2 linked regions of the Homo sapiens genome follow. The protein of the gene in region 1 purifies or fractionates together with the protein of each later gene. This does not show direct contact. Each region holds a gene or a part of one and is shown on either strand. Other genes may lie near its edges.

The links.
Region 2: the proteins of ZMPSTE24 (region 1) and RAB10 fractionate together in Homo sapiens (co-fractionation; one large-scale study listed by BioGRID). This does not show direct contact.

What each region holds. Positions count from the first base shown.
Region 1 is NC_000001.11:40,271,688-40,275,511, reverse strand, and holds part of ZMPSTE24 (CAAX prenyl protease 1 homolog), read right to left. Parts: intron 3,619-3,824; coding exon 3,477-3,618; intron 1-3,476. UniProt on the Homo sapiens protein: Transmembrane metalloprotease whose catalytic activity is critical for processing lamin A/LMNA on the inner nuclear membrane and clearing clogged translocons on the endoplasmic reticulum.
Region 2 is NC_000002.12:26,124,468-26,128,291, forward strand, and holds part of RAB10 (ras-related protein Rab-10), read left to right. Parts: intron 1-2,676; coding exon 2,677-2,766; intron 2,767-3,382; coding exon 3,383-3,484; intron 3,485-3,824. UniProt on the Homo sapiens protein: The small GTPases Rab are key regulators of intracellular membrane trafficking, from the formation of transport vesicles to their fusion with membranes.

The sequences.
Region 1 (3,824 bases):
TCAAAGTGCTGGGATTACAGGCGTGAGCCACCACGCCTGGCCAAATACTGGTTTTGTTTGTTTGTTTGTTTGTTTTTTGAGACAGAGTCTTGCTTTGTCACCCAGGCTGGAGTGCAGTGGCACGATCTTGACTCACTGCAACCTCCGCCTCCTGGGTTCAAGCAATTCTCCTGCCTTAGTCTCCCAAGTAGCTGGGACTACAGGCGCCCGCCACCACGCCCGGCTTTTTTTTTTTTTTTTTTTTTTGTATTTTTAGTAGAGACAGGGTTTCACCATGTTGGCCAGGCTTGTCTCGAATTTCTGACCTCAAGTGATCCGCCCACCTCGGCCTCCCCAAGTGCTGAGATTACAAGCATAAGCCACTGCGCCTGGTCCAAATAGTGCTTCAATAAGCAGTTTTTCTGCTTAAATCAGCCACAGTTGGTTTCTATTGCTTGCAGAATTCTAATACAATGTTTAGTAGGTTCCTCAATATGTAATATAGCCATTAGAAGTCTTAATTCCCCACAAACCTACTCTTCTCCTATTTTTTTCCATCTCAGGAAACTACCATATATCTAACTGCTCAGGTCAAAAGTCTAGGCCATTATCTTTGATGTCACTCTTTCCCTTATTCTCCCAATGCAATCAATTAGAAAATTCAATCAACTCTACCCTAAAACTTGTCCCAAATGTATCCACTTCTCTCCATTAATTACTATTATCCTAGTCTAAGCTACCATTATGTCCTACCTAGACTTTTGCCTGTCTCTACAACATATTCTCCATACAGTAGCCCAGGATATTTTAAAAACACAAAGCAGATCATGTCACTTTCCTGTCTAAGCCTTCAATGGCTCTTCCCACTGAACTCAAAATCCAAACTCCTTACCCTGACTTACAAAGGCCTATGTGGACTGATTCTTGCCTATGTCTCAGATTTCATCTCCTAACACTCTCCTGCTATGGTGCAGCCACACTGGACTTCTTCATGGTCCTTGAACATCTTCCCATTGACGTCAAATGGGCGGCTCCTCCCTTTAGGTCTCAGCTCAATCTGATGACCAATCTACAGTATCAACTTATCAGACCAAACTAGTTTAATTTGCTGCATAGCACTTGCTATCTGATAATATTTTGAGAGCAAGATTCTTGGCTTTTCACTACAATCTCCCTACCAATTTACAAATATGTAATGTGTGTTGTTATTGTCAGCAACAACATTCATTCATTCAAAATATTTTTGAGAATTGTTACTGTTGTTAACAACAATTAAAACATACATTATAGGTGAGTAAACTGCTGTTTGGCAAAGCTAAGTTGCGCAAAGTCACACAAGTAGTTTGTCTCGAACTCCTGACCTTCCACCTCAGCCTCCCCAGTAGATGGGATTACAGGCTGGAGCCACCAAGCCCAGCACTGGTAATCTGTGGTAGAGCTATGATTCAAACCCAAGCCTTTTGACCCTGAAGCCTGACGTCTGAAATGCTGCCCCCAACCTACTCAAATCTTGACTTCCCATTAACACCCAGCTCAGGTCATAACCTTCCATAAAGCCTTCCCTGACTATTTTATCTAAAATGAAAATAGCTCTCATACTCTGGATGTTGTAGGGGGAAAAAAAAAGATAAAAAGAAAATAGCACCGATATATTTCACATATTCTATTGACTACCTCCACTGTCATAGCATTAACTATTATTTCACGTTATCTGATTGTAACTTAAGGGATCAGCAACTTAGGTTGCTCCTTCAGTAAAAGCAGCTTAGAGACTATTCTGTTGTACTGATTAATGATTAAATTTCTAGTTTAATATTACCTAAAAAAAAAAGAGTAGTTATTTCAGAGGCTAAAGAAGTAAGTATGAACTGGCTTATTCTACCATTTCTCCACAGACTTTTAAGCTACTCCAATCGTGCCTTTAGTTGGGCTGTATATCCTCAGGAGCCACTAAATGTCTGACATATATATATATATATATATATATATATATATTTTTTTTTTTTTTTTTTTTTTAGACAGAATTTGGCTCTTGTTGCCCAGGCTAGAGTGCAATGGCTTGATCTTGGCTCACCACAACCTCCACCTCCAGGTTCAAGCGATTCTCCTGCCTCAGCCTCCCAAGTAGCTGGGATTACAGGCACGCACCACCACGCCCAGCTAATTTTTTGTATTTTAGTAAAGACAGGGTTTCACCATGTTGGCCAGGCTGGTCTCGAACGCCTGACCTCAGGTGATCCGCCTGCCTTGGCCTCCCAAAGTGCTGGGATTACAGGCGTGAGCCACAGCGCCCAGCCAGATGTCTGAAATTTCTATGTTCTTCCAGTTGCTGTTGATTCATTCTTTTCAGTTGTGACCATCTCTGTTCTCCTCTAACCCTGTGATTGTTTCTGCTTCTATTCCTTCATCTAACACTGCTGCTTCTCACTGGTAATATTTTATTTTAGAGCAGGGATCAGCAAACTGTAGCTCACAGGCCAAATCCAATCTGCCATTTATTTTCATAAAGTTTTATTGGAACACAGCCACACTCATTTGTTTAGTATTGTCTATGGCTGCTTTTGCGCTATAATAGTAGCACTGAATAGTTGCAACAGAGAACAAGTGGCCCGCAAAGCTAAAATATTTACTATCTAGCCCTTTACAAAAAACATTTGTGAAACCATAGCTTAGAGGAAATACAACTGAAACCCAGAAGGGTGAAGTCACTTGTCCAAGATCCTATAACTGGTAAGTGGCAGGAACAGAACTATTACATTCATTTATATGGACTTTATAAATTCTGAAAGTCATAGAACCTTACAACAGTTTCTCTCTACATCTCCGTAGTCTTCTTTGAGACTTTAATAGTCAACTACCAAAGTCTCAAAGAAAGTAATAGACTGGGTGTTAATGGGAAGTCAAGATTTGAGTAACGGTCAAGAGACCACTTAAATCTCAAAAGTAATCATCAAAAAAGCAGAGTATAACAAATCTGCAGTACTCAGTGGTACTGCAGTCTTTGGTAATCAATCTTCAGGTGAGTCCTCCAGAACACTGGATATTTTCTTGGAGGAGACAAGGCCAATAACACTGGCTTTGTTTAAGAGCCTCCAAACTAATACTAAACAGAATTTGACTATTCAAGAGTCCAACTTAACTACCTAAAAGAACTAGGCAGATAACAGAAGTGAATAAATCAGTCTAATATATAAGATAACATAACAGAGAGTGAAAAAGCCTTGGCCAAAAATTTAAAACAATACTGTAAAACCAAACAAACATAGCTGCAGACAAGAGCAGGATTTGGTATCAAGCCACCAGTTTCTATCCCTGGCCTATGTTATCAATTTCTGTAAATCTTAAAAAGCCAAAAGGTAAACTCCTAGCCTTTAAATAACAAATTTTAAAAAGAAAAAAACAAAAACTGATTAATTCTTTTATTAAAATTTTAAGAATAAAGTATCAAATAAAACAAACCACTTGGATAAAACTTTCTTATCCCCAGGTAGCCTTACCTTCCACAACATACACCTTCGTCAAAGGAAAGTCAATACTCTTTGCCATTACTTCAATTTCTTCTTTAAGCTTTCCCTCAGGCAGAGGTGTGAATTTGTCAAATAAAGGGGCAATATAATCAGCATAGATTGTGACAAGAACCTGAAAAGTAAATGTCAGAATAACATATGAACATGTTCTTAAAGAAAAAACATTCTTTATTATACAGATTAAATTATATTAAAACAACTATGTTGACCTCAAACTTGAGAACAAGGAACTTACTTGCTCTGGTATTCCCAGGCCCAAATAGTACCAGATAGTAAGAGCATAATATCTGTCTGATGAATTAAATTGAAATGAGTAGT
Region 2 (3,824 bases), on another chromosome or scaffold:
ATAGTTCACTCCAGCCTTGAGCTCTTGGGCTCAAGTGCTCCTCCTGCCTCAGCTTCTTAAAGTGTTGGGATTACAGGCATGAGCCCCCGTGCTCAGCCTATTGTTGTTTTTGAATACTTTTTAAAATTGTGGTGAAATACATACAACATGAAATTTTCATTTTAACTATTATTTTGGTGTATAGTTCAGTGGTGTTAAGTACATTCTACTGTTGTGCAACCGTCACCACCATCCATTTCCAGAACTTTTTCATCTTTCTGAACTCAAGCTTTGCATCCATTAAACAATGATTTCTGTCTCCCCCTTTCCCCATCTCCTGGCAACTGTCACCATTCTATTTTCTATGAATTTGACTGTTATAGGTACCTCATATAAGTGGAATCATATAGTATTTGTTCAATTTGTAAGTAATTTACTTCATTTAACATAAAGTTTTCAAGGTTCATCTACATTGTAGCATGTGTCAGAACTTGTTTATTTTTTGAGGCTGAATAATATTCCATTGTTTTTATATGCCATGTTCTGTTTATTCATTCACCCATTGTTGGATATGTGGGTTGTTTTCACCCTTTTACTATTGTGAATAATGTTGCTGTGAACACTGGTGTACAAATATCTGAGTCCCTGCTTTAAATTCTTCTGCGTGTATACCCATGAGTGGAATTGCTGGATCATATGATAATTCTGTGTGTAACCTTTTGAGGAATCACCAGACTTTTCCACAGTGATTGCACCATTTTACATTCCTACCAACAGTACACAAAGGTGTCGGTTTCTCCACATCCTCGCCAATATGTGTTTTCTGTTTTTTTAATAGTAGCCATACTAATGGGTATGTAGTGGTATCTCTCATTGTGGTTTTTGATTTGCATTTCCTAATCTTAGTGATATTGAGCATCTATTCATGTGCATATTGTTTGTTTGTATATCTTCTTTGAAGAAATGTCTATTCAAATCCTTTGCTTGCTTTTTTTTTTTTTTTTTTTTAAATTTTTTCCAGACAGGTTCTTGCTCTGTTCCCCAGGCTGGAGTACAGAGGCATGATGATCATGGCTCACTGCAGCCTCAACTTCCCAGGCTCAAGTGATTCTCCTACCACAGCCTCCTAAGTAGCTGGGACTACAGGCACACACCACCGTGCCTGGCTAATTTTTAAATTTTTTGTAGAGATGAGGTCTCACAGTGTTACTCAGGCTAGTCTCGAACTCCTGGGCTCAGGCAATTTTCCTGACAGCCTCCCAAAGTGCTGTCATTTTTTGTTGTTGTTAGGAGTTTTAGGTGTTTTTTATATATTCTAGGTATTATTCCCTTTCAAATACATGATTTACAAATATTTCCTCCTTTTTGTGGGTAGTCTTTTCATTCTCTTGATAGCGTCCTTTGTTGCACAGTAGTTTTTAACTTTGATGAAGTACAGTTTAACTACTTTTTCTTTTATTGCCTGTGCTTTTGGTATCATGTCAAAGAAACCATTGCCAAATCCAGTGTCCTGAAGCTTTTCCCTATGTTTTCTTCTAAGAGTTTTATAGTTTGAGGTCTTTGATCTAGTTCAAGTTAATTTTTTTATATGGTTTAAAATAAGGATCCAGCTTCATTGTTTTGCATGTGGATATCTGGTTTTCCTAGTGCTATTTATTGAAAAGACTGTCCTTTCCCTATTGACTGATTTTGGCATCCTTGTCGAGGGTCATTTGACTAAGTATGTGAGGATTTATTTCTGGGCTCTCTATTCCATTCCATTAGTCTGTGTATCTGTCTTTATGCCAGTTCCACACTTTTTGATTTGCAGTAAGTTCTGAAATTTGACTCCCCCAGCTAATATTATTTTGGCTGGGCTCAGTGGCTCATGCCTGTAATCCTAGCTCTTTGGGAGGCCGATGGGGGTGGATCACTTGAGGCCAGGAGTTCGCGATCAGCCTGGCCAACATGGCAAAACCCCCCATCTCTACCAGAAAACTACAAAAATTAGCTGGCATGGTAGTACACACACCTGTAGTCCCAGCTACTCACAGCTACTCAAGAGGCTAAGGCAGGAGAATCGCTTGAACTCGGGAGGCGAAAGTTGCAGGAAGCCCAGATCACACCACTGCACTCCAGCCTGGGCAACAGAGCAAGGCTCTGTCTCAAAAAGAGAGATTCTTTTGATGTTAGATTCCATATGAATTTTTGGATAGATCTTTCTATTTCTGCAAAAATTGTCATTGGGATCTTAAGGGGACAACCACTTGTTTTTAACTGATTTTTCTGCATGGACCTCCTTGTGCCATAGCAGCACAGCTATTTGAGAGTTTAAGGCTCTATAAAATGTTTAATTAAGGCTTCTATAGGGTAGTATGCATTATAAAATCTGAAATGATCCAGCCTGGATTTAGATTATGCAAGTTTCTTTGCTTGTATCTTCTCTTTTGGTAAGAAAGAACATACCTAGAAAGTAGACAGCCTCCTTTAGGGAGGAAATAGTATTTGACATGGATATGTCTTGGGAATTGCGTTTCTTTTGCTAGGTAATCTAAGAATTTGTGTAGGCTTTTAGTATGGAGTAGTTTTAGGGTGACTGCTTTAAAACTTCAAAGCTATAGAAATGACCCTCTAAATTGAGAGAATAAAGTCACTTTTAAAGACTGTTAAGCCGTAATTCATGGTAGTATGTAAAAGTAAAATTTTATTTCATTTTAGCATGCCAATGAAGATGTGGAAAGAATGTTACTAGGAAACAAGTGTGATATGGACGACAAAAGAGTTGTACCTAAAGGAAAAGGAGAACAGGTAAAAATCTGAATTAAACTGATACTCTGCTCTGTCTTTGTAAAGGTAATGCTACTTTTGATTATTTTTATAGTAATAGTGATCGAACACACTAAGCTAATTACATAGTTTTTAAAATGCTTGTTGGAAATAATATTTTATCATTTGAGTGAATTTTTTTTCAGTGCATATTTAACATGTATGGGAGAATCAAATGTGCCCATAGTATTTTTAGCCTTATTTAAACTACAAAGAGAGAAAAATATAAGTCATTAATCCTCGGTTTTTAAACTTAGGACTTTAAGGAAATGTATCAATTAGTATGGTTCTAAAATGTGACAATCAGGAGCCTATGGTGAGCAGAAATTAGACCCTGAGGAGTCAGGTTGAGCTTCTCATAAGTTTGCCCCCAGTGTGAAGTATCTGACTTAGAATATCTGAAATAAACTTTTGGGGTAAGGAGATTACTTTTCTTTTGTTTGTTTTATGAAAGAGCTTGACTTGCTGAAATATTCTGTGTTATATATTCTAGTTGGGACCACTGCCTTCAGAATAAGATTAATATTTAAGCTGTTAAAGTCAGCAGTTGGCAACCCATGCTTGATAATTTTATGATGATATTTTGTTTCTGTTTTAGATTGCAAGGGAGCATGGTATTAGGTTTTTTGAGACTAGTGCAAAAGCAAATATAAACATCGAAAAGGCGTTCCTCACGTTAGCTGAAGATATCCTTCGAAAGGTAAGTTCCTGTTTTTATATCCTGCCAGGTACCTGAGTATCTCTGTTGAATATTTTGTCTATTCTGAAGTACTGGATTTACATACAGAATTTGAGTTTGGGTGGTATTGTTTCTGTAGGGCAGCAGTCCCCAGCCTTTTTGGCACCAAGGACTGGTTTCATGGAAGATAATTTTTCCATGGACCGTACTGGGGGGTAGTTTCACCCAGAAACTACCCCACCTCAGATCATCAGGCGTTAGATCCTCCTAAGGAGCACGCAACCTAGATCCCTTGCATGTGCAGTTCACAGTGGGGTTTGCACTCCTATGAGAATCTAATGCTATCACTGATCTGATGGGA